Homo sapiens: one gene and its partners. The protein of the gene in region 2 interacts with the protein of the main gene of each other region in a biochemical or structural test. Each region holds a gene or a part of one and is shown on either strand. Other genes may lie near its edges.

Region 1 (7,623 bases), on a different chromosome or scaffold from region 2:
GGAGTTCGAGGTTCCAGTGAGCAATGATGGTGCCACTGCACTCTAGCCTGGGTGAAAGAGTGAGACTCTATCTCTAAAACAAAAACAAAACTCCAAACCATGACATTTAGAAGTTAAAGTAATATGTTCATGTTAATGAAAATATTGCTCAGATGAACCATTTGAGAAACCTACTTAAATCCTACTTAAAATAATAAAAATGGTTTATGTTAGTATTATCTATATCATAAAGAAGAGATTTTCACTTCAATCCTTATTAAAAACTGACAGCATTTCCCCCCCTTACTGGCCTCCATACTTAACTGTGGAGAAAGCACCAATTTATCTGTTTCTTCTCAAAGATTGTGCTCACTGGATGATATTTTACTACATTTATGGTTTGTGCTAATTTGTTCAATGTCGAATCAAAATCAGGAGAAATTTTTTTTTTAGAAATGAGGCCTTGCTATGTTTCCCAGGTTGGCCTCAAACTCCTGGGCTCAAGTGATCGTCCCTCCTCAGCCTCTAGATTAGCTAGGACTACAGGCATGCACCATTGAGCCTGGCTGGGAGAAATATATTTTGGCTATGAACTGTTTTCTGAATAAAATGGAAAGTGGGCTGGGCATGGCGGCTCATGCCTGTAATCCCAGCACTTTGGAAGGCCGAGGTGGGTGGATTGTCTGAGCTCAGGAGTTGGAGACCAGCCTGGGCAACATGGTGAAACCTCATCTCTAATAAAAGCACAAAAAAATTAGCGGGGCAGTGGTGACGGGCGCCTGTAATTCCAGCTACTGAGGAGGCAGAGGCAGGAGAATAGCTTGAACTTGGGAGGCAGAGGTTGCAGTGAGCCATCATGGCACTGCACTCCAGCCTGAGCAACAGAGTGAGATTCTGTCTAAAAAAAAAAAGGAAATAAAAAGGAAAGTGGACTGACATCTTTTTTGTAGGAACAGTGTTCTTTCTGCATCCAAAGTTATAACTCCATCAGTGTTTTTTTGTTTGTTTGTTTGTTTGTGTTTTTTTTGCGACAGAGTCTTGCTCTGTTACCAAGGCTGGAGCGCAGTGGCATGATCTCGGCTCACTGCAACCTCCGCCTCCCAGGTTCAAGTGATTCTCGTGCTTCAGCCTCCCGAGTAGCTGGGATTACAGGCATGTGTCACCATGCCAGACTAATTTTCGTATTTTTAGTAGAGATGGGGTTTCGCCATGTTGACCAGGCTGGTCTCAAACTCCTGGGTCCAAGTGATCCGCCTGTCTTGGCCTCCCAAAGTGCTGGGATTACAGCCGTGAGCCACCATGCCTGGCCTGTAACTCCATCAGTTTTGATCCCAAGATATCTTTTTCAGACTGACTCATACCTCACAAAATAATTCTTATCTAAATGAAAAATGTTTTCTTTTGTATCTTGAATTTTTAATGATAAACCAGACAGGAAGTTTCTGGGCATTTCTCCTTATGTATTGCCTATATGCTGTAAGCGGATTCATATTGTGTATATCAGTGGTTTCTACGCTTAAAACAAACATCTGGTAGCAGGTACAGGGCAGATATTGCCATTTCATGTTGTGTATCATGACTCCATGTGATATTTGACAAAGAATTCTGCCAATAGCTTTGTTACACTTTTTTTTTTTTTTTTTTTTTTTTAGATTGAGTCTCGCTCTGTCACCCAGGCTGGAGTGCAGTGGCCCAATCGATCCCAGCTCACTGCAACCTCCACCTTCCAGGTTCAAGCGACTCTCCTGCCTCAGCCTCCTGAGTAGCTAGGACTACAGGCGTGTGCCAACACGCCCAGCTCATTTTTGTATTTTTAGTAGAGATGGGGTTTCACCATATTGGCCAGGCTGGTCTTGAACTTCTGATCTCAGATGATCCTCCTGCCTTGACCTCCCAAAGTGCTGGAATTACAGGCGTGAGCCACTGCACCCAGCCAGCTTTGTTGCACTGTCTCCAAACAGAATATGTTATTAACTTTGTAGCTAGTTGTGTAAGCAGCTCTATAACAAAATGATTTCTACCAATTTTTTTCTACAGAAATGTAACTTGATCTCTTTTAACCACAAAATGTATCCACATCATACAGGAAAACATTTTGCATTTATTCTGGAAAAATCCATTTTACTTGGTAAAGAAGCTACAGCATTTTTTTTTTTTTTTTTTTGAGATGGAGTCTTGCTCTGTCGCCCAGGCTGGAGTGCAGGGGCACCTCGGTTCACTGCAACCTCTGCCTCCCAGGTTCAAGCGATTCTCCTGCCTCAGCCACCGGAGTAGCTGGGATTACAGGCACGCGGCACCATGCCCGGCTAATTTTTGTATTTTTAGTAAAGATGGGGTTTCACCATGTTGGCCAGGCTGGTCTCGAACACCTGACTTTGTGATCCGCCCTCCTTGGCCTCCCAAAGTGCTGGGATTACAGCCACCCCGCCCAGCCCAGCCAATGTATTTCTTTTGGGTGGATGATTTTTTTCTTTTTGGTGACTTATAAATATAACAACAAAATGAAAGAAAAATGAAATTTTAACAGATGTAAACAATAATATGTAAATTATGTTAAAATACCTTTGCAGTAAACTAAATAAGTGGATCAATGTAATCTGCGCAGTACATATACAACTTCTAAGAATGCAAAGCTGTTCAATAGCATAATGGGATTTTTGTTAAAATTTTAATTAAATTTGTATTAAACATTTTGTGAGCGATACATGAAAATGGAAGTACTTTGTAGTGCTAAAATTGTAGTGCTAAAATAGGGGGATGGGTGGAACAGGTTTCCAGTGTCAGACTCCTTTAGTTTGCCTCCCACATTACTTACCTGCTGGATGTCCCTTGCTTACCCTCTTTGTTTCTGTTTCCTTAATTGCAAAATGGAAATAGCAGTAGAACCTACCTCATCGTTGTTGTGAGGATTAAATGAGTAAATACATATAAAGCATTTTGGACAGTGCCTACCTCGAATAGCTCAATGCTTCCTATTACCAGGAAACAAAAATTAGCCGGGCGTGGTGGTGCGCGCCTGTAATCCCAGCTACTCAGGAGGCTGAGGCAGGATAACTGCTTGAACCCGGGAGGGAGAGGTTGCAGTGAGCCAAGATCGCACCACTGCACTCCAGCCTGGGTGATGGAGCAAGACTCCGTCTCAGAAAAAAATAAAGAAAAAAGAAAATAAATCTGCACAGCCATCATCTTATTGATTCCCTATTAAAAACTCCTCACTGGCCAGGTGTGGTGGCTCACGCCTGTAATCCCAACAGTTTGTGAGACCGAGGCGGGCAGATTGCCTGATGTCAGGAGTTCGAGACCAGCCTGGCCAACGTCGTGAAACTCCATCTCTACTAAAAATACAAAAAACATTAGCCAGGCGTGTGGCGTGCGCCTGTAATCCCAGCTACTCAGGAGACTGAGGCAGGGGAATTGCTTGAACCGGGGAGGTGGAGGTTGCAGTGAGCCGAGATTGCGCCACTGCACTCCAGCCTGGGCGACAGAGAGAGACTCTGTCTCAAAAACAGACAAACAAAACTCCTCACTCTGTCCCTGTCACTGACCAAAGAAGTTACCCATTCTCAAATTACTTTCTTCATCTATTGCCTCCAATTTTGGCTGGCAATATCTCCCATACCAAACCGTTAACACCTGGATCCTTTTAGACTACCGGTTCCATAGCAGGCATTCAAAAGTTAGTCATTTAACTTTTTCACCAGGGACAAAAGTCCTTAAAAGAGGAAAAAAACTGGAAAGGATTACAAATCACCATGTGATGTTTAGGTGCTCTTTAGCACCTAAAGAGGATTTACAAGATACATTGTCTGCACGGCAACCACTCAGACGAATCCACCACCAAGCGAAGGTTTTTAGTAAAATATCCTTTTTTTTTTTTTTGAGACGGAGTTTCGCTCTTGTTGCCCAGACTGGCGTGCAGTGGCGCTATCTCGGCTCACTGCAACCTCTGCCTCCCAGGTTCAAGCGATTCTCCTGCCTCAGCCTCCCAAGAAGCTGGGATTACAGGCATGCGCCACCACGCCCGGCTAATTTTGTATTTTTAGTAGAGACGGGGTTTCGCCATGTTGGCCAGGCTGGTTTCGAACCCCTGGCCACAGGTGATCCGGCCGCCTCGGCCTCCCAAAGTGCTGGGATTACAGACGCGAGCCACCGCGCCCAGCCTAAAATACCCATTTTAATTGCATTTCAATGACGTTACTCGGTCATTGACCTCTTACGCAAGGAGGGCGAGATTAGGGAGACAGCTGGACTTCTTCCTCGCCCTCCCTTCACTGGACTGGCTGGCGCAGTGAGTAGCCCTGCCCTTGGACGATTTGGCATTTTCATTGGTCAATTTTTCTTAGGAGGCTGGCCGTGTGTTGACTCCGCCTACTATATAGGCGGGGTCTCCCCGCCGCAGGGGCTGGGATGCTGGGGGCTGCTGAAGCCGCCATCTTGGATTCCGCGGTAGCGGAGGCGGCGGTCAGGCGCCGCTTCTGGGGAGTGGCCTTTCTTTTCCCCTCCCTCCCGGTTCGGTGGCGGCGGCTCCTCCCACTGGGGGGGGGGGTGGCGCGGCGGCGGTGGCATCTGCGGCCATGGCGGCGACTACTGCCAACCCCGGTGAGGAGACGGAGGACTGGGGCGCCTCTAAAGGGGAGGGGCCGAAGGGGCTGACAACTAAGGAGACCCAGGGCTGAGGGGACGCAGCTGGAGCTGAAGGCGCCGGGGCGGGGCGGGGGCCGCGAGAGACGGTGGGGGAGCGGTGACCTGGGGAGGGGCCCGATCCCGGGGACTTGGGTAGACTCGAGTATACCCAAGGGAGCGAGGGGGCAGGTGGGAGTTGAGGGGGGCTCCCTGTCCTGACCTCCGTTGGAGCGGCAGCCAGTGCGGGGCTGGCCCGCCCTCACTCCTCGGTCGGCGTCTGGTCTGTGATGTGGTCCTCTTTTAACCCTCTGCCCGCTGGAGCCGCTTGATGCCGAAAACTGTAGGCAGAGTGTCTCGGTTTACTTTAAGAGTAGTTTGGATTCATAAACCCTGGACCACACTGCTCTTTAGTTGAGGCGTTGCTTCCAAACATTTAAAGGTTTAGATTTTAATTTAAAAAATAAAAAATGGACATTCTTTGATATATACGACGTTTCTTTAGGCTGTTACCTCCCACCCGCAACCCCCGTCCCCGTCTCCGTCCCCGGACTATACTTTGAAACTTAGATCTTGTGTTAAGAGGGCCTGTAGGTCTTTGCCTGCTGAGGGCAGGGGTTTGTGTAATGGTTATGGTTCCGGACAGGTCTTTAGTTCCACAGCCCCAGGTTTAAATCTTGTTAGGCCTACGTCGAGGCAATTTCCAAACTCTTTCAGAAAAGTTTGATTCCACACCATTTCTCAATTTCAAAAAATAATCAAATATCAAAAAGGTTTGGTCTGTTTTGTCTAAGAGATGGAGTAGGGTGTAGTGCAGTTCTAGAGAGATCAGATCTTCAAATTACTAGTCCCAGCCCTCTTTCCTCTATGTTACAGTTATTCCTCTTTAGAAGGCATTTCATTTTAGGGGTCTAGTTTATCTTGGAGACCTTGGTTATTCTTGCCAAATAAAGTCTATCCTTTTCCAAAAACCAATATATTTGATAGCCTTAAAAAGGGCCTTGAGATATGTGTGTGTGTTGCGTGGGGCGGAGAATTTCTTGAAAATAAAACAGTAGGAGTGATTACCCCCATCCCCACGTTGAAATTTAAATTAGATTTTTTTTCATGTTACTGAAAGGCAGTATGATTTTGCAATATCCAGATTTTGATAGGACAGTTGAATCACTGAAATTTCTTTTCTACCGTGTTTCTGGGAATAGCTATTTTAAGAAATGGTTAATTTGTCACGTCATTTTTTTTTAATCTTTTAAATTTTTTTTGAAGGAAAGGGAGGTAAAATTAATCGCAAAAATTACATTGCAGGAAGTGCTGAGTGATAGAATAAAACTATAAAACAGGAAAAATGCCGTTATGTCAAACCTGACCTTGTAGTAATATAACCTATCTGTGAACTATGGAATAAATAAACAAGATTTTTAACTGATCACACATTGCAAAATACTTATATAACCCTAGTTAAATTGCAAAGCATTTCTCTTATTAAGAAGTGGCCTGGGTAAACAAGTTTTAGTTCATATGTCAGAAGCTTTTTTCCAGCTGTGTGGGTGGGGTTGCTTTATTTTGTTTTGTTTTTTGAACAACAGCAACCAGAATGACAGCCTCTTGACCATATTTTCATAAGCTGATCAATATCAGCTTAAATCTTAGCAGAAAATAGCATATGTTAGTGTGTATGTGTGTGTGCAGAATCCTTGTTAATGAAACAGCTTTGTTTACTATGCTTTGGCTGCTTGCTTCTGCAATTTTTAGATTTCCTTTTTCTTTTTCTTTGTTTTCCTTTCTCCTCTCCCCTCTCTCCTGTCCCCTCTCCCCTCTTTTTCTTTTGCTACAGGGTCTTGCTCCTTGCTCTGTCGCCCAGTCTGGAGTGCAGTGGCAAGATCACTGCTCACGGCAGCCTCCACCTCAGGGGCTCAAGTGATCCTCTCACGATCAGCCTCCCGAATAGCTGGGACTACAGGTGCCTTGCCACCATGCGCGGTTAATTTTTAAATTTTTTTGTAGAGACAGATGCCTTGCTATGTTGCCCATGCTGATCTTGATCTCCTGGTCTCAAGCAAGCCTTGCCTCAGTCTCTCCAAGTTGGGAATACAGATGTGAGACACTTTGACCAGATTTCTTTTTTGATGTTGAAAAATTATTCCATCTCTTCTGACTTATTGATCCCATGTTCAGTTCAATCAAATCAGAAGATATATTTTCTTTTTTCTTTTCTCCCTTTGCTCTTGTATATCATGAGGAAGAGATCAGAGATACATTGTGGATTTTTTCAGTAGCCTGTTGCTTTTTGGGAAATGAGATTAATGAATGGAGGGACATAGGTGGAAATGTACTGTGCTTAGTGAAAGTAAATGTTTTCAGGTCAGAATTCTTTGCTACACTGTCATACCTTCTTTCCTTAGAGCCATTTTAAGGACTAGGGACACCATGCCTATTTCTTTGAGTTTTTTCTACTTTGTATTTTTGCTGGAGTACTAATTTTTTTTTTTTTTTTTTTTTTTTTACAATTCTTGTTAGTTTTGTCAAGATTTTAAAAAATATTTCACTCTTTAACCTTCACTTCAGTTAATCCTTTTTAAAAATAATACTTATTTTTATTTTTCAGACAGGTTCTTGCTCTGTCTCCCAGACTGTAGTGCAATGGTGTAATCACAGCTCACTGTAGCCTTGAACTCCTGAGCTCAAGTGATCTTCCCACCTCAGCCTCCTGAGTATCTGGGTCTACAGACACACACCACCACACCTGGATACATTTTTTAACTTTTTGTAGAAATGGGATCTTGCTATGTTGCCCAGGCTGATCTTGAACTCCTGTCCTCAAGCAATCCTCCCACCTTAGCCTCCTAAACTGCTGGGATTATAGGTGTGAGCCACTGACCCGGCCAAGTTAATCCTTAGGGTTAGTAATAGTGCTTGAACATGTTAATTGTGCTGGTGGCCCTGCAGTGTTTTTCAAGGGGACCACGTTCTTCTGCATTTTTCACTGTGGTGCTGCATTAGAAGAAGAGTAAAATATGGTTGGTA
Region 2 (7,133 bases):
AACCAAGTGGAATTGCATTTTTATAGGCTACTGTTTCAGTAAAATTCTACTAGCTGGTCTGCGTATACAAGACGGCGATAAGAGGTTTTTGTTAGTGGTGGTGGTGTTGTTTTGTTTGTTTTTTGAGATGGAGTCTCACTCTGTCACCAGGCTGGACGGCAGTGGCATGATCTCAGCTCACTGCAACCTCTGCCTCCCAGGTTCAAGCAATTATCCTGCCTCAGCCTCCCAAGTAGCTGGGACTACAGGTGTGCACCACCACGCTCAGCTAATTTTCATATTTTTAGTAGAGATGGGGTTTCACCATGTTGGCCAGGATGGTCTCGATCTCCTGACCTTGTGATCCACTCGCCTCAGCCTCCCAAACTGCTGGGGTTACAGGCCTGAGCCACCACGCCAGCTGAGATACTTGTTTTTAACTATCAAAGAGTAAGCAGACATTTTTCAAAATGTTTGAACTTGAGATAATGCCATACCAATGAAACATCTCACACTGTATTCGTTGATTTTTAGAAATATATTTTCCTTCTGTTTTTTCTGTTCTTAATGCTTAGAGACAATACTAAATGTTATGGGAATTTATATAATTTTATCTTAAATGCTGAACAAAAATGATGTAAAAAATTTGTGAGAATATTGCCATTGTTTCTCGGAGGAAGATCATTTCCACTTTCAATCTTAATAATTTTAATTTATAACTGGTATTTTCATTTCTTACATCTCTCTATTGTTTTCCTTATCTTTCTCATACAGGTAACACTTTATCAATACTGACTTACTTTCTGATTGTATCATGAGAACAAGTACATTTACTTCCTCAAATAAATTTCCTAAATACATTTTAAATTTTGTGGTATTATGGATTATGTCTTACACTTTTTTTTTATTTCTCTCGGAACATCTAATCAGGTATAGAGTAAGTTCTCAGTAAAATGTGAATAATCAAAACTTTAGATTTAAAAATCCCCTATTCCCTTCCATAAATAAAGGTATTTAGATCAGATAAATAAACATTAAATCAGGGATCGGCCACGGGCCAGGGCTGATCTGTTACCTATTCTGATAAATAAAGTTTTATTAGCACATAATCACTTCCATGTGTTTACAGGTCACCTTACAGGCTATAATCCAGTTCGGTAGCTGCAACAGAGACTGCATGGCCCTTGTAAAGCCTAAAATATTATTATCTGGCCCTTTACAGAAAAACTTTGCCAACCACTGCTTCAAATCATTTTTACTGATGAGGAAACAGTCTCAGCTCAATCCATCCAGTTGTGCAGTTAGACCTATCTACTAACCATACCTCTGTCAGACGCTCTTTCACTGCCAAATTAAATGCTTGGTAAAAACAATGGTATTTTAGATTATATAAAATCAAATAAACAGTAAAACCACAAATTAAGAGAGTTGTCAAAACACCTCTAAGGGCTTATACTAACCTAAATCAAAATATAAATGTCATTTTTTTCTGAATTAAAATAGCATCATCTAATAAAATTAAATAGCCTGTGTGCATATATATATTTATATATGTTTAGAAAAATAATAAATATATTAACTTACATTTAGAATTTATTTCTATATATATACACACACAAAGATTACTATTGAGAATATCATTAATTGTATAAAAATACCAACAAAAAAGTCCATGTGTCTCACAGCAGAGTTCTAAAAGATGTTAAAAGCAATGTGTCGAAGAAAATGCTTTTAAAATAGACCATGTTGACCTCACATGCTACTCGATTAAGATATGAACAGCTTTTAAAAAAAAAAAAAAAGTCCCACTGGCAACGGAAGGAAAAATAAATACTATATACCATCCCCCAGCTTTCATCTCATATCAGGGCAGGAAAGAGCTATCACAGAAAGTCCATGAGAATCACTTCTTCAATCAGTGTTTATTAACTTAGCGGACTCTGGTTTTCAACAAGTTACTTAAATCTGGGTTTTTGTAGAAGGAATCACATGAAAACTCCATCAGAAATATTCTTAGTGTTTATACTAACCTTCACTTAAGCTGAAAAGGTAAAGAATAAGAAGAGAGAAAAATGCCCCACACTTAAGATAAAAAATGAATTTGGTTAGCCTAAGCTGCTGTCAGATCTCTGTTCCTATCAGATAAAGGATATTCAGCATAGGTATTTTAGGTAGTAAAAATGATTAGTGTTTCCCCAGGGTATCCTATTATAATGCAATAATAGAGACATTTCTGGAGTAGAAATAAAGTATAGCTCTCCGTATATTAGCTATAATTGGCAAACTATAGACAAGAAAACAATGGAGGCAGGCGGGAAAATGAAATGCTACAGGTAGATACTTAATAACTGTTTGATAAAGATGATATCTCCCCATTACAAGACACCAACCACTGAGTCAGCTCATAGCAAAATATCCTGTCATCCATTGAGACAAGAAAGAGATGGAAGAGAGAAAGGGGAGAACAAGCTAAACTAGAACAAAACAGAATATTTGCCTGGACAAGGCCTGAGTAGAGAGATAATTATGCATGGACAATTAACAGCATATACCAGATCATATAGGCAAAGTTGCCTACCAAACATGAATGTCCATCTGGCATTCCCCAGTCAGGGCACAGACAACATTTCTTTTTTCCTCAGAGATCCAGCTAGTGGAATTCTTCTGTAGAGTTGCTCAAGACTGATTGAGTCTTGCCAAAGGAAGGAAGCGGAATTACTCAGCCTCAGCTGCCCTGCCATGTGTCAACTCCTTCTCCTGAGATCCTGTCTCTTCTCCATGTTTCTACCAAAGATACTAGTGGACCTACTAGGGATTCATGTTTTGTACAAATGGCTGATTCTATGTCTTCCTTCCTCAGTCGCTTTGGCTCTTAGGATCTGCTCATAGGATCAAAAATAGAAGTCGTTTTCAACACACTATTACCTTGAATACTTCTCTTGAAGAAGGCCTTGCAGCCCTCACAGGACCAGACTCCATAATGGTAGCCTGAAGCATAGTCATTGCACACTGCACAGTAGCGAGTCTCCTTGGCAGATTCCATAGCCATACTTCCCTTGTCATTGGTACTGGCCAATCTTTCTCTGCCACCCTGGCGTCGATTATCTGAATTTGGCCTGGGGGGAAAAAAACAGTAAATCCATTAACATTAGAAAAGCAAAACATGCACTCTCTGGGAGATGCAGCAGATCCACTTTATCCTGACATTTTGAAATAATGAATCATAATGTAAGCTAATCTTTCATTACCTCTTGCCGTCTGTTGCAGCAAAAGGTGTTGCCTATTATATTAACCTTGAGGGGAAATTGTTTATTGCAAACTTGTTTTAAAAACATACTACCTGCACCAGAATATGTTACCTATAAAAATGACAAAATGAAATTAGCTGGTTTCTAATAGACTTAATGTTTTTGCAGGAATATACAATTATTTCAGAACCATTAGAGACCAATGCTCATCCCAACTCTAGACCACACTCAGGGTCTCTGGGAAACAGAGACAAAGCATAAAACAGCTGGGACATTTGGAACTCAGATGAACTGATGGACAACACAGAACATGTGTCAAAAAAATAACAATTCAAATTTTTACGTCATTGCCACATAACCCTGGATATCAGTTTTTATAACTTGAATAATGTAATTTGAAAATACTGTTCTTCAATATTCAAAACTCCTCTTTAGGAACATGTAGAGACTGAGCATGGTGGTTCATGCCTGGAATCCCAGCACTTTGGGAGGCCAAAGCAGGAGAATTGTTTAAGCCCTGTAGTTTGAGCCCAGCCTGCACAATATAGCAAGACTCCATCTCTATAAAAATGCTTCTTAAAAAAATTAGCTGAGAATGGTGATGTGTGACTGTAGTCCTAGCTACTTGTAAGGCTGAGGTGGGAGAATCACTTGAGCCTAGGATGTCGAGGCTGCAGTAGGCTATGATTGATCATGACAACTCCAGACTGCGTGAAAATCAGAGGAACACAGAAAAAAAAAATGTAGAAAGAGAGACAATCAGAGGAACACAGAAAGGAAACTGAAAATGAACAGTAAGAAAATTCTAGGAAAACCAAGAAAATAAGGAAGTAAAATGCTTTAAGAAAGTAGAAAGCTAAAAAAAAATGTAGGAAGAGAAGAGGAACACAGAAAGGAAGCTGAAAATGAACAGTAAGGAGATTCTAGGAAAACCAAGAAAATAAGGAAGTAAAATGCTTTAAGTAGAAAGGTTTATGGAGAGGATGATCAAGAATGGCAAATGGGGCAGAGAAGTCCAACAAAGCAAAGACTGGTTAAGTGAATTCAGACCTGACAAAGCAGACTCTTAGCAAGGAGTTTCCTTAGACAGGTACAGGCACAAGCCAAAATTCAGCAGATGGAATGTAAGGAGATGAAAATGAGGGAAGGCATTCCTTTGAGAACTTGGAGGAGAATAGGAAAAGATACAGATAGGGTGGCAGCTGAAGAATATAAGACCCAAGAAAATGAATTTTTTAGAATGAAGAGACTTGAGAAGGCCTCGTGTAGACTGAAGGGCATGGGCCAGGAGAAAGGGAATGTTTGAAAGCACAAAGAGGAAGATAAAAGAATAAAGCCAAGAAGGAAACTAGAGGAGTTGGGATTAAAAACACAGGTAAAAGAAATTGCCTCAATGAAGACAACTTGAAGAAGACTGGAAGGAAGGAGGTAAGGAAAGTAGAGGAAGATGAGTTTGCATCTCTCGCCAGACCAGACATAGGAGTAGATGTTATATTGGCCCAGGACTTGGCAGGCATGTGCAATCAAATAAAGGTGGAATAAGAGCCCAGCACAGTACCTGGCATGTAGTTGGCACTCCATAATATATTTAAATGAATGGAGAGAGTGTTCAAAGTTGTATAAGAAAGAAAGGTAGGCAGACATTGAAAGTATAGATGGAGTGAAGGTTCCTGTGAACATTTTTTAAAAAATGAAAATCCTAAGATGAGCTAAAGTCAATTGATGATAGCCCTTCCAGCAGGGTCTCTTGGCAAAGGAAGCTCAAGCTTCCTGCTTCCAGTCCCCACCCAAATACCCGAACCACACTGACTTTCACTGGCGCTCCCCTTCACAAGCCCTGTCTTTCCTTTTAGCCCAAATTGTATAACCTCTCCCTGCCTTCTCAGTCATTATTATGGTTCACAATTTTGTGGTAGTGGTTCTCAAACTACATTTGCCATAATATTCACAAAATATTGGCTCCTTGGGTTGAGTACGTCTGACTTTGCCAATTTCGTCCATTCTAAATAACTTAGTTCTGAGGTTGGCAGCCTCAAATAGGAATTCTTTATTTTTTAATGTTCATTAGAGAGCACTGGCTCACAGTTTTCAATTCTAGTTCATATTCTGTTACCCATCTCTTTCCATTTCACCACCATGCTGTTGAACCCACCCCCATCAACCTCAAATCTTTTTATTGCTTGTTTACTAATATCCTATGCATGATTCAAGTCAGTAGGAAGCAGCTATGAATATCTAACTGTAGAAGCTTAGTGCCTTTGGAGGTGGGAGTAGATATTTAGCAAGCATGAAATTGATAGATTCAATGTCTTATAAGCCTTATTAATTGTTATATCTAGCTCAGTGCCCAGCACATAGCAAGCATTCAATACATGTTTGTTGAATGAATGAAGGAATAAGTGAGTGAACAGTATACGCATGGCCAGAAGTTCCAATGTGTCAAGTATCTTCCCACCCACGCCTACATAATAAAATGCTATATTTTTTAAATTGTGGTAAGATATATATAACACAAAATTTACCATCGTAACCACGCTTAAGTGTTCATCAATTCAATCATGTTAGATATACTCACATCATCGTGCAACCAGTCTTCAGAACATTTTCATTTCACAAAACTGAAACTCCATACCCATTCAACAATAATTCCCCATTTTCTCCTTCCCCTATCCCCTAGCAGCCACCAATCTACTTTTGTTCTCTGTGAATGTGGCAATTCTAGATACCTCATTAAGTGAAACCCTACTTTTGCTTTTTGTGTCTAGCATATTTCACTTAGGATAATGTCCTGAAGGTCCATGATGTGACTAATATGCCATTGTCTGTATATACTACACAGACTTTGTTTACCCATTCATCCATCTATAGACATCTGGATTGCTTCTACTTTTTGGCTATTATGAATAATGTTGCTATAACTATGAGTATACAAATATTTCTTCAAGACCCAGATTTTTAATTCTTTTAGATATATACCCAGAAGTAGAATTACTGGATCATATGATAATTCTATTTTGATTTTTTGAGGAATCACCAGTGTTTTCCACAGTGGCTGCACCATTTTACATTCTCATGAACAAGGCACAAGGTTTCTATTTGCTCTATATCCTCTCCAACACTTACTCTCTTCTTTTTCTAATATAGTAGCCATCCTAATGAGTGCGAGGGGAATACTGCATTTTTATGTCTTTTGCCTGAATGCCTCCCTTACCAGCCACTCCTAATCCCCATAAACTTGAATCAACATCCCTGTTCTGAACTCTCTAGAAGATTTTTTTATTTCTCTTCTGCTACTTACTATATTAATCTTCAATTGATTAATTCTCATTTCCATTACTATCTGCAAAGTTCTTGGTGTCTTATTCATCTTTAAAATGCCATGTGCTTAGAGCATAGTGCCTCACTTGGAATAGGGACTCAACAACATTGATATCAAATGACTGAATCAATAAATGTATAGTTTCCACAATATAGATAGAATATGTAAATACTATTTTTATAAATATTGACAAAAGATTTAATAGCGAGAGCCCATTTTCCTCAGAAATAGCAAAGATGTATGCTGTCAGCAAAATGCCATTCATCTACATTTTATCTCTAAGATGACCCCCAGCTTACTGAAAATCAACTGCAGACTTTGGGCATAGAAATAGAAGGCATCTAAAGAAGACGGGGAAACTACATGGGCTATATTCACTAACCATAAAGGAACTTTTTTAGCCAACTTAGAAATCCATGTAAATAACATTGTCAATTATCATTTTGGCCCAGACTTACTCCATAAAGACTGTCAAAATGTTATTTAAAAAAAAACAAAGAATATAAACTAAAAGGCAAGAGCGGTCTTCCTCTGGGCTCCAAGACCCTGTGGCACGTTGAAATAATGTTCACGTTGAGTATCCATCA
Region 3 (7,924 bases), on a different chromosome or scaffold from region 2:
GCCAGAGAGCACGGAGTCGCATTCGCCTTAGTCTCATCAGCCTGCCCATGAAGGAGAATGGGGAACTCAGGTGCCCTAGGGGCTGGGCTGAGATCTCTCCAGCAGAAGGATATCATCTTGGCAGCCTCGGCCTCACCCTCGGCCTGCACAATTTTCTGCCGCTGTTCCTGCTTTGCTTTTTCTACCAAGAATTGGGCCCGCTGGGCCTCCTGCTGGGCTGTGGTGGGAGAGAGTCAGGGAGACCCTGTCCTGGGTCAGGAGCCCCACCCATGGAGTCTTTCCTCCTCCTGCATCTCAGAAGCCCTCACCCCACGGCTCTTGCGACTCACCCACTTGTTTGGCTTCTACAGCAGCTGTGTACTCTCGGCTAAAGCTCAGCTCTGTGATGGCCACATCATCCAGGATGAGGCTGAAGTCCTTGGCCCTCTCTGTCAGCTCCCGGCGGATCAACAGGGATACCTGAGGGCAGGGGTGAAGAGGGGAAGGGAGGGGTGGTTTGAGGGGACTGGGGAGCTGAAAGGAAGGTTGCGACCCCTAACCCTTCACTCTCAATACAACATGCACTGCCTTAGCTTCCTGTCAGGCAAACCTGTAACATAAGCCTCTCTGCTCGAAGAGGTGCAGGAAAAGCCAAGACTTGGCCATTTTCCTCTGTGCTTCCTAACACCGAGTGCTATCGAGTTCTAATGCTGGCTCTCCTTATTTCACAGTGGCAATTAGCACAGCTTTTAGGTGGAAATGGCACTAGGGTGACAATGCTTTTCTAATAAGCTGCCTTTCCTAATTCCCAATACTCTGGGCCTAGGAAGGAAAGGCTGACACCACGCAGATGGTGGTGGGAGTCAGACCTGGGCCCGCTGGGTGATCAGCTGTGAGGCATTGAACTTGGCCACCACACTCTTGAGCACCTCGTTGACAATGGACGGCAACACTCGTTCCTCGTAGTCCAGCCCTAGGCGCTGGTACATGCTAGGAAGCTCCTGAGCATTGGGTCGAGACAACACTCGCAGGGAGATATTCACCATCTGTAGGTCTGAGATTGAGGTCAGCAGTGGCTGGTCAAGGCCAAACACCCTTTCCCAAGCATTTTCTCCTTCATGTTCCTCCCTGTATGCCCTGTGCAATGGTGTACAGCCTGGCACTACCCTGGGGGGAGGAGAGTTAATCAGGCTGACAAGGAAGACAAGACGCAGCACAGCTGAAATGCACCCTCACCCACTGTGAAGCCTTGAACTGCAAACCCCGTCACCAGCAGAGCTGACTACTCTTTCCCCCTCTGTACTCTGTGCAACCTCTAACGTGGGCGCTTTCGTGCTGTACCGTAATCATGTCTCCTGTAAGGACTTGGGGGACAAGAATTGTGTTTAATGAATCTTTTATTCCCAGGGCCCAGTCTAGTAAATGAATAAGCGACCTGCACTAGGTATAGCACAAAGAAGTACATTACAGGTTACAGGTGAGCTACCTGACCCAGGGTGTATATGTGTGCGTGGGTGGGGAGGAGGAAGAGGTCTGGGGAACTCAAAGGCACGGCTTTTATGTATGGTCTAGAAGGAGAGAACAGGTGAACTAGTCAAGCTTAGGGACAAACTTCTCCAGAACAGAGTGTACTAGTGGATGTAACTGTAGATATAGTAAGTCAAGCAGTTAGAAAAAAAAGGCTTTAAAACAAAGCTTTGATCTAGGCAGTGAACAAGACGAGGGACAAACAATACTCTTATTGAATACACGTCAGGGAGGAGACAGTAAAAAGCACGCAAACACAGTGTGTTCAGAATTTGCTGCTTTGACCCCAGGAGGCAGGTATTTTTGTTACAGCTCTTGCAGATGTGGAAAGAGGCCTAAAGGCCTGACACTACCATATTCCCCTGGGGTTTCTTGCCAGCTACCTTGATCATCCCACCTGCCATGTGATTACCAAGTGCTCAGACCTACCTTTGGAGCCTGTAGGGGAGGAGATTTTTCGAGGTCTGGCCCGAATGTCATAGATAATGGGGTACTGGAACCAAGGGATCCTGGAGAGGACAGGGATAGGTATTAAGAGGCCACAGTTTCGGCCGGGCGCGGTGGCTCACGCCTGTAATCCCAGCACTTTGGGAGGCCGAGGCGGGCGGATCATTTGAGGTCAGGAGTTCGAGACCAGCTTGATCTACATAGTGAAACCCCGTCTCTACTAAAATACAAAAATTAGCCGGGCGTGGTGGCGGGCGCCTGTAATCCCAGCTACTCGTGAGGCTGAGGCAGGAGAATCGCTTGAAATCAGGAGGCGGAGGTTGCAGTGAGCCGAGATCGCGCCACTGCACTCCAGCCTGGGCGACAGAGCAAGACTCCCTCTCCAAAAAAAAAAAAAGAAAAGGCCGCAGTTTCACTAGCCTTGCCCGGTTTCCCCTCACCACGCGTTTTTTGGCCTGCTCCTCTCCACGACCACAGACAAGGAGAGATTCTCTTGTCCCTCTGGAAAACAACAGTTTGTATGCTGCTGGAGGTTCTCGCAGCACCCACTATCCTAGGGGCAGGGATGAGGAGGGTGGGAAAAGAGCAGCGTTGAATCCTGTTGCACGTCCGACTATAGCCACTGCTGGGTCGGCGTCAAGGGTGAAAGGTCAGGGTCAGCAGGCTCTGCCCGCCATTACCTGAAGTGAAGGCCCTCGGCCAGGATAGTGTCCTGCTGCACTCCACCGATCCGATTGAAGAAGATGGCTCTGTGCCCGCCTTCCACTGTGGGGAGATGGGTGGTGATCAGGCCAGGCCGCTGCTCAGAGGAAATGCTAGGCCCGTGGAGGGGCGCGGGGACAGGGCAAGGGGTTTGGGGGAGGGACTGGAAGCGTCCGGCGAGCAGGCGGAGGTTGCTCACCGGTGAACACAGATTCGCGCACACCGTAGGCCACGGCGCCGGCCCCCAGCAACAGCTTCAGGGCCGTGCCCATGCCCCGGGGCCCGGCGGGCAGCCGTCCCGCCAAGTCCTTCAAGTTCTGGGCCATGTCTGATCTTGAGGCCGGCGGCACTGGAGGTCAGAAGGGGGTGCCGGCCCGCCTCTACCCCGCTCCGGCTTAGGTACTGCACCCTTCACACGAGGGTTCGGGCCCGTAAGGCTGGCGAAAGAAAGGGCAGCGGAAGTGCGCTCCCTTTGAAACCCTCCCCCTTAGCCCACTACGGACCCGAACTTCGCGCACAGGAATCGCGCATACGGAAGTCCCGCCCCTTTCTGGAAGGCTGCCCTCCCAGGGAGGGCAGCGCAAGACAGCAAGTCATCTCCATTTCCTGGCCCACTTTCAAAATGGCAGCCGGAAGGAAATTTGTGATTAGAAGCCGCGCTGTTCTTATTTAAGAGCGTTAGCGCAACTTCCGGTATTGTTGCAAGATGGCCGCGCCCAGTGATGGATTCAAGCCTCGTGAACGAAGCGGTGGGGAGCAGGCACAGGACTGGGATGCTCTGCCACCCAAGCGGCCCCGACTAGGGGCAGGAAACAAGATCGGAGGCCGTAGGCTTATTGTGGTGCTGGAAGGGGCCAGTCTGGAGACAGTCAAGGTAGTTTGGGACAGGAAGTGGAGAAGTAGTAAATCGATAGGTTGGGACTCCGTGGAATGAGGGTAAGGGGCCCAGAGTGGATGTAGAAAGCAGAGAGGGGTGAAAGATGCTTTTGAAGGAAGGTGGCTTGGTTGGCTTTGCGTTGATTTGACATCCTGGGATGGTAGTACTCATTTTTCTTTCTTTTTTTTTTTTTTTTTGAGACGGAGTCTCGCTCTGTCGCCCAGGCTGGAGTGCAGTTGCGCGACCTCGGCTCACTGCAACTTCTGCCTCCCGCCTTCAAACAGTTCTCCTGACTCAGCCTCTGGAGTAGCTGGGACTACAGGCAGGTGCCACCACGCCCGGCTAATTTTTTTGTATTTTTAGTTCAGATGGGGTTTCACCATGTTGGCCACGCTGGTCTCGAACTCCTGACCTCAAGTGATCCGCCCGCCTCGGCCTCCCAAAGTGTTGGGATTAGAGGCGTGAGCCACTGTGCCCGGCCGGTAGTACTCATTTTCTTTTGCTCTTTTTGAATGATATTCTAGCCCTCACCTCCTTGCTTCCAATTGGTTTACCAGGATTCTGTGGTATAGTAGTCTAAGCAGAGGAAAGTTTCGTTCCTTGCGTCATTCCACATCCCAAGACAAGTTACTGGGCAGATGAGAAACGTAGTTATGTAGCCTAGTCTGCCCACACTTTTTGTAAGGGCTTCGTGTTTCAATTCATTAGTATCCATAGTCACCTCTCTCTAATATCCACCTATGATACACTGTCCAGACCTGGTTATTATTTAAAACTTTTACATCTGCATTTTTATCTATCATTCATCTCTTTCCCCACATGTAATAGAACCAGCAGTTCTCTATCTTAAAGCCTTGGGCAGTGTTCTTCCTCCTCCTTTCTCTTACCCGTTAGAACTAATTGAATAGGCCCAGAAGAAATCGCATTGGTTTAGAAGTCAGGCCAGGATTTTAATCTTCGTTCTAAATACACTTTTTTTTTTTTTTTTTTTTGAGATGGAGTCTCAGTCTCTACCAGGCTGGAGTGCAGTGGCACGATCTTGGCTCACTGCAGCCTCCGCCTCCCGGGTTCAATCGATTCTCCTGCCTCAGCCTCCAGAGTAGCTGGGATTACAGGCCTGCGCCTGTAATCTATTAAAAGAATAGAAAACATGATTATATCCTACTAATGGGTTGAAACTGTATTATTCATTCAAGAAGGTTTTTTTCTTCTATAACTAAGGGTGTCTCATGGACTTAGTTCTTGGTCATTTGTTCTTTGTGCTCTCTGTGACATTACTTCAACTATTCAATTTCAAAATCTACATCCCTTTTTTCGCAGACTTTTTGGAGCCATATATCTCAAGAATGTTGCTAGACATATACATTCCAGTGATACATAAAAACTTAACCTTCCAAAACTTGTATTTGTATATAACAGTTTGTTTTTAGACTTTTTACTGACCACCCTAATGCTCCTTGGGACTCCAAATTGCAACTTGGAATTATTTCTTTTAGCTGCTACAGATGTAGTCCACTTCTTTAACATCAAACTTCTGATGTCTTTTCCAGTGTACAGAGAGTTGTTAGGATAGTGTCTGTCAGTCATTCCCATCCTGCCCTGCTTACTCCAGAATTATTTTTGGCTTTGTGCTTGATACATTAGGATTCTGTGGTTTACAAAGCAGCTTCATATATAATCACTGCCCTTTAGTGTCTCAGCTCCCAATTTTCCTCAAAATTTCCTTTCTTCGTTTCCACTTTTTCTTTTTTGTTTCTTTTTTGAGATAGGGTCTTGCTCTGTTGCCTGGGCAACAGAGTGCAGTGGTGTGATGGTTCACTGCAGCCTCTACTTCCCTGGCTCAAGCAGTCCTCCCACCTCATCCTCCTGAGTAACTGGGACTGCCAGCAAATGGCACTGCGCCTGGCTAATTTTTTTTTTTTTTTTTGTGAGACAGGGTCCCACCGTGTTGCCCAGGCCGGTCTCAAATTCCTGGGCTCAAGTGATCCTTCCACCTCGGCCTCCTAAAGTGTTGGGATCACAGGCATAAGCCACCACACCTGGCTACTTTGTCTTGATTCCATCTGTACCTTTGCTCATGCCAGTCTTTCTTTTTTCTTTTTTTTGAGACAGGGTCTTGCTGGAGTGCAGTGGTACAGTCTTGGCTCACTGCAATCTCTGTCTCCTGGGCTCAAGCCATCCTCCCACCTTAGCCTCCCAAGTAGCTAGGACTACAGGCATGTGCCACCATGCCCAGCTAATTTTTGTATTTTTAGTAGAGATGGGGTTTCGCCATGTTGCCCAGGCTGGTCTTGAACTCCTGACCTTAAGTGATTTGCCTGCCTTGGCCTCCCAGAGTGCTGGGATTACAGCCGTGAGCCACTGCATCTGCCCCCATGCCCGTCTTAAAACTGGGAATAACCCCTCTTCCTTTTACTTCTGAGAGTTTTCTTTGATTAAACTGCCTCCTGCATCATTAGTTTTCACATTTCTTTTTTTTGAGATGGAGTCTCGCTCTGTTGCCCGGGCTGGAGTGCAGTGGCGCTGCAAGCTCCGCCTCCTGGGTTCATGCCATTCTCCTGCCTCTGCCTCCCAAGTAGCTGGGACTACAGGCGCCTGCCACCATGCCCGGCTAATTTTTTATATTTTTAGTAGAGATGGGGTTTCACCGTGTTAGCCACGATGGTCTCAATCTCCTGACCTTGTGATCTGCCCGCCTCGGCCTCCCAAAGTGCTGGGATTACAGGCGTGAGCCACCACGCCCGGCCTTCACATTTCTTGTTCAGATTTGCAGCTCTTCACTTAGTGCATGTTTGGTGTACGCAAACTGAGGGTGGTGACTCGATATTTTGCACAGTACCTACTTACTGCTCCTGTAATAAACACAGCATTCAGCCTTGCTAACTACTAACTCCTGCCTAGTTCCAGGATGTCTCATTGGCCTTGCCTAACAGCCACAGGTTTTTTAATTAAATCCAGTGTATTAGTAGATAATGTGAAGTCACAGGTTGTGCCCTTCCTCCTGTTTCCCTCTCAGACCATTCACTGGGGAGTGCAAATAAGGCTGCACAGTAATCCCCCGAAGGGCTTGCTGGGCTCCACCCCCAGTGTTCCTGGTTTAGTAGGTCTAGGGTGGGCCTGAGAATTTGCCTAACAAGTTTCCAGGTGCAGCTGCTGCTGGTAGTTTGGGGACCACACTTGAAGAACCACGGGGCTAGGTAACAGAAGCTTATGCTGTTCTCTCGTCATGTTCCCTGTTCTTCAGGTAGGGAAGACATATGAGCTACTCAACTGTGACAAGCACAAGTCTATATTGTTGAAGAATGGACGGGACCCTGGGGAAGCGCGGCCAGATATCACCCACCAGGTAACTCCAGGGACAGTGCTCACAACCCTTTGAGCCTCTGTATGGAAGGGTTGGCAGCTGAGTGCTGCCTCTCTTCAGCCTTAACCATGTCTCGGTTTCTGCTTTGCTCAGAGTTTGCTGATGCTGATGGATAGTCCCCTGAACCGAGCTGGCTTGCTACAGGTTTATATCCATACACAGAAGAATGTTCTGATTGAAGTGAATCCCCAGACCCGAATTCCCAGAACCTTTGACCGCTTTTGTGGCCTCATGGGTAAGAAGCCTTAGAACAAAGTTAGAATGAACTTGTCAGTAGGGAAGAAGGGAGGAAGAGGAAAAGGGAGAACTAAATGTGGATTTTTAAGCGAGAAAATGGGAGAACAACATGATTAATACCAGGACAAGGACTGTTATTATTTTTCTATGTTTGTGGAAACTCCACTCCTGTTCTTGCAGTAGCTTCCTGGCTGAGTGAAAGAGGGAGTCTGAACCCATCACTGTACAGCTAGCCATATGCTTGGCAACTGTTTGTTCCTAACATTTCAGGAGTCCAGTCTAGATATAAAGCACACAGGGAACTCATCTTATCCATGGGGTTTTCCTTGTTCGATGACTGGACAGAAGGACTGTGGTCTCCATCTAGCTCTGAACTCTTTTTTCCCCCTTCTAGTTCAACTTTTACACAAGCTCAGTGTTCGAGCAGCTGATGGCCCCCAGAAGCTTTTGAAGGTGAGGTATTGAAACCTGTTAGTTGAAGGCTGGTTCTGGGAATGTTTCTGGGGCTGACTTTTCTCTCTTTTTTACTTTAGGTAATTAAGAATCCAGTATCAGATCACTTTCCAGTTGGATGTATGAAAGTTGGCACTTCTTTTTCCATCCCGGTTGTCAGTGATGTGCGTGAGCTGGTGCCCAGCAGTGATCCTATTGTTTTTGTGGTAGGGGCCTTTGCCCATGGCAAGGTAAGGTCTGGGCTCAACCCTGAAATTCTTGGTAGAGCTGAACTTAGTATAGAATTCCCAGAGCAGTAGGCATTTTAACAATGCTTACAATGAGCTAGAAGACACATG

The links.
Region 1: the proteins of ESR1 (region 2) and ARNT form a complex in vitro, tested with the Homo sapiens proteins (2 studies listed by BioGRID).
Region 3: the proteins of ESR1 (region 2) and PHB2 form a complex in vitro, tested with the Homo sapiens proteins (3 studies listed by BioGRID).

The regions. Positions count from the first base shown.
Region 1 is NC_000001.11:150,873,498-150,881,120, reverse strand, and holds the start of ARNT (aryl hydrocarbon receptor nuclear translocator), read left to right. Parts: upstream 1-4,521; 5' UTR 4,522-4,553; coding exon 4,554-4,578; intron 4,579-7,623. UniProt on the Homo sapiens protein: Required for activity of the AHR. Upon ligand binding, AHR translocates into the nucleus, where it heterodimerizes with ARNT and induces transcription by binding to xenobiotic response elements (XRE).
Region 2 is NC_000006.12:151,838,559-151,845,691, reverse strand, and holds part of ESR1 (estrogen receptor), read right to left. Parts: intron 3,096-7,133; coding exon 2,905-3,095; coding exon of another isoform or gene 2,899-2,904; intron 1-2,898.
Region 3 is NC_000012.12:6,967,563-6,975,486, forward strand, and holds the start of PHB2 (prohibitin-2), read right to left. Parts: upstream 3,103-7,924; 5' UTR 2,982-3,102; coding exon 2,855-2,981; intron 2,719-2,854; coding exon 2,634-2,718; intron 2,016-2,633; coding exon 1,936-2,015; intron 1,034-1,935; coding exon 849-1,033; intron 460-848; coding exon 330-459; intron 218-329; coding exon 114-217; intron 45-113; exon of another isoform or gene 1-44. Other genes in the region: EMG1 (ribosomal RNA small subunit methyltransferase NEP1), read left to right, coding at 3,362-3,529, 6,777-6,878, 6,990-7,131, 7,528-7,586, 7,667-7,816.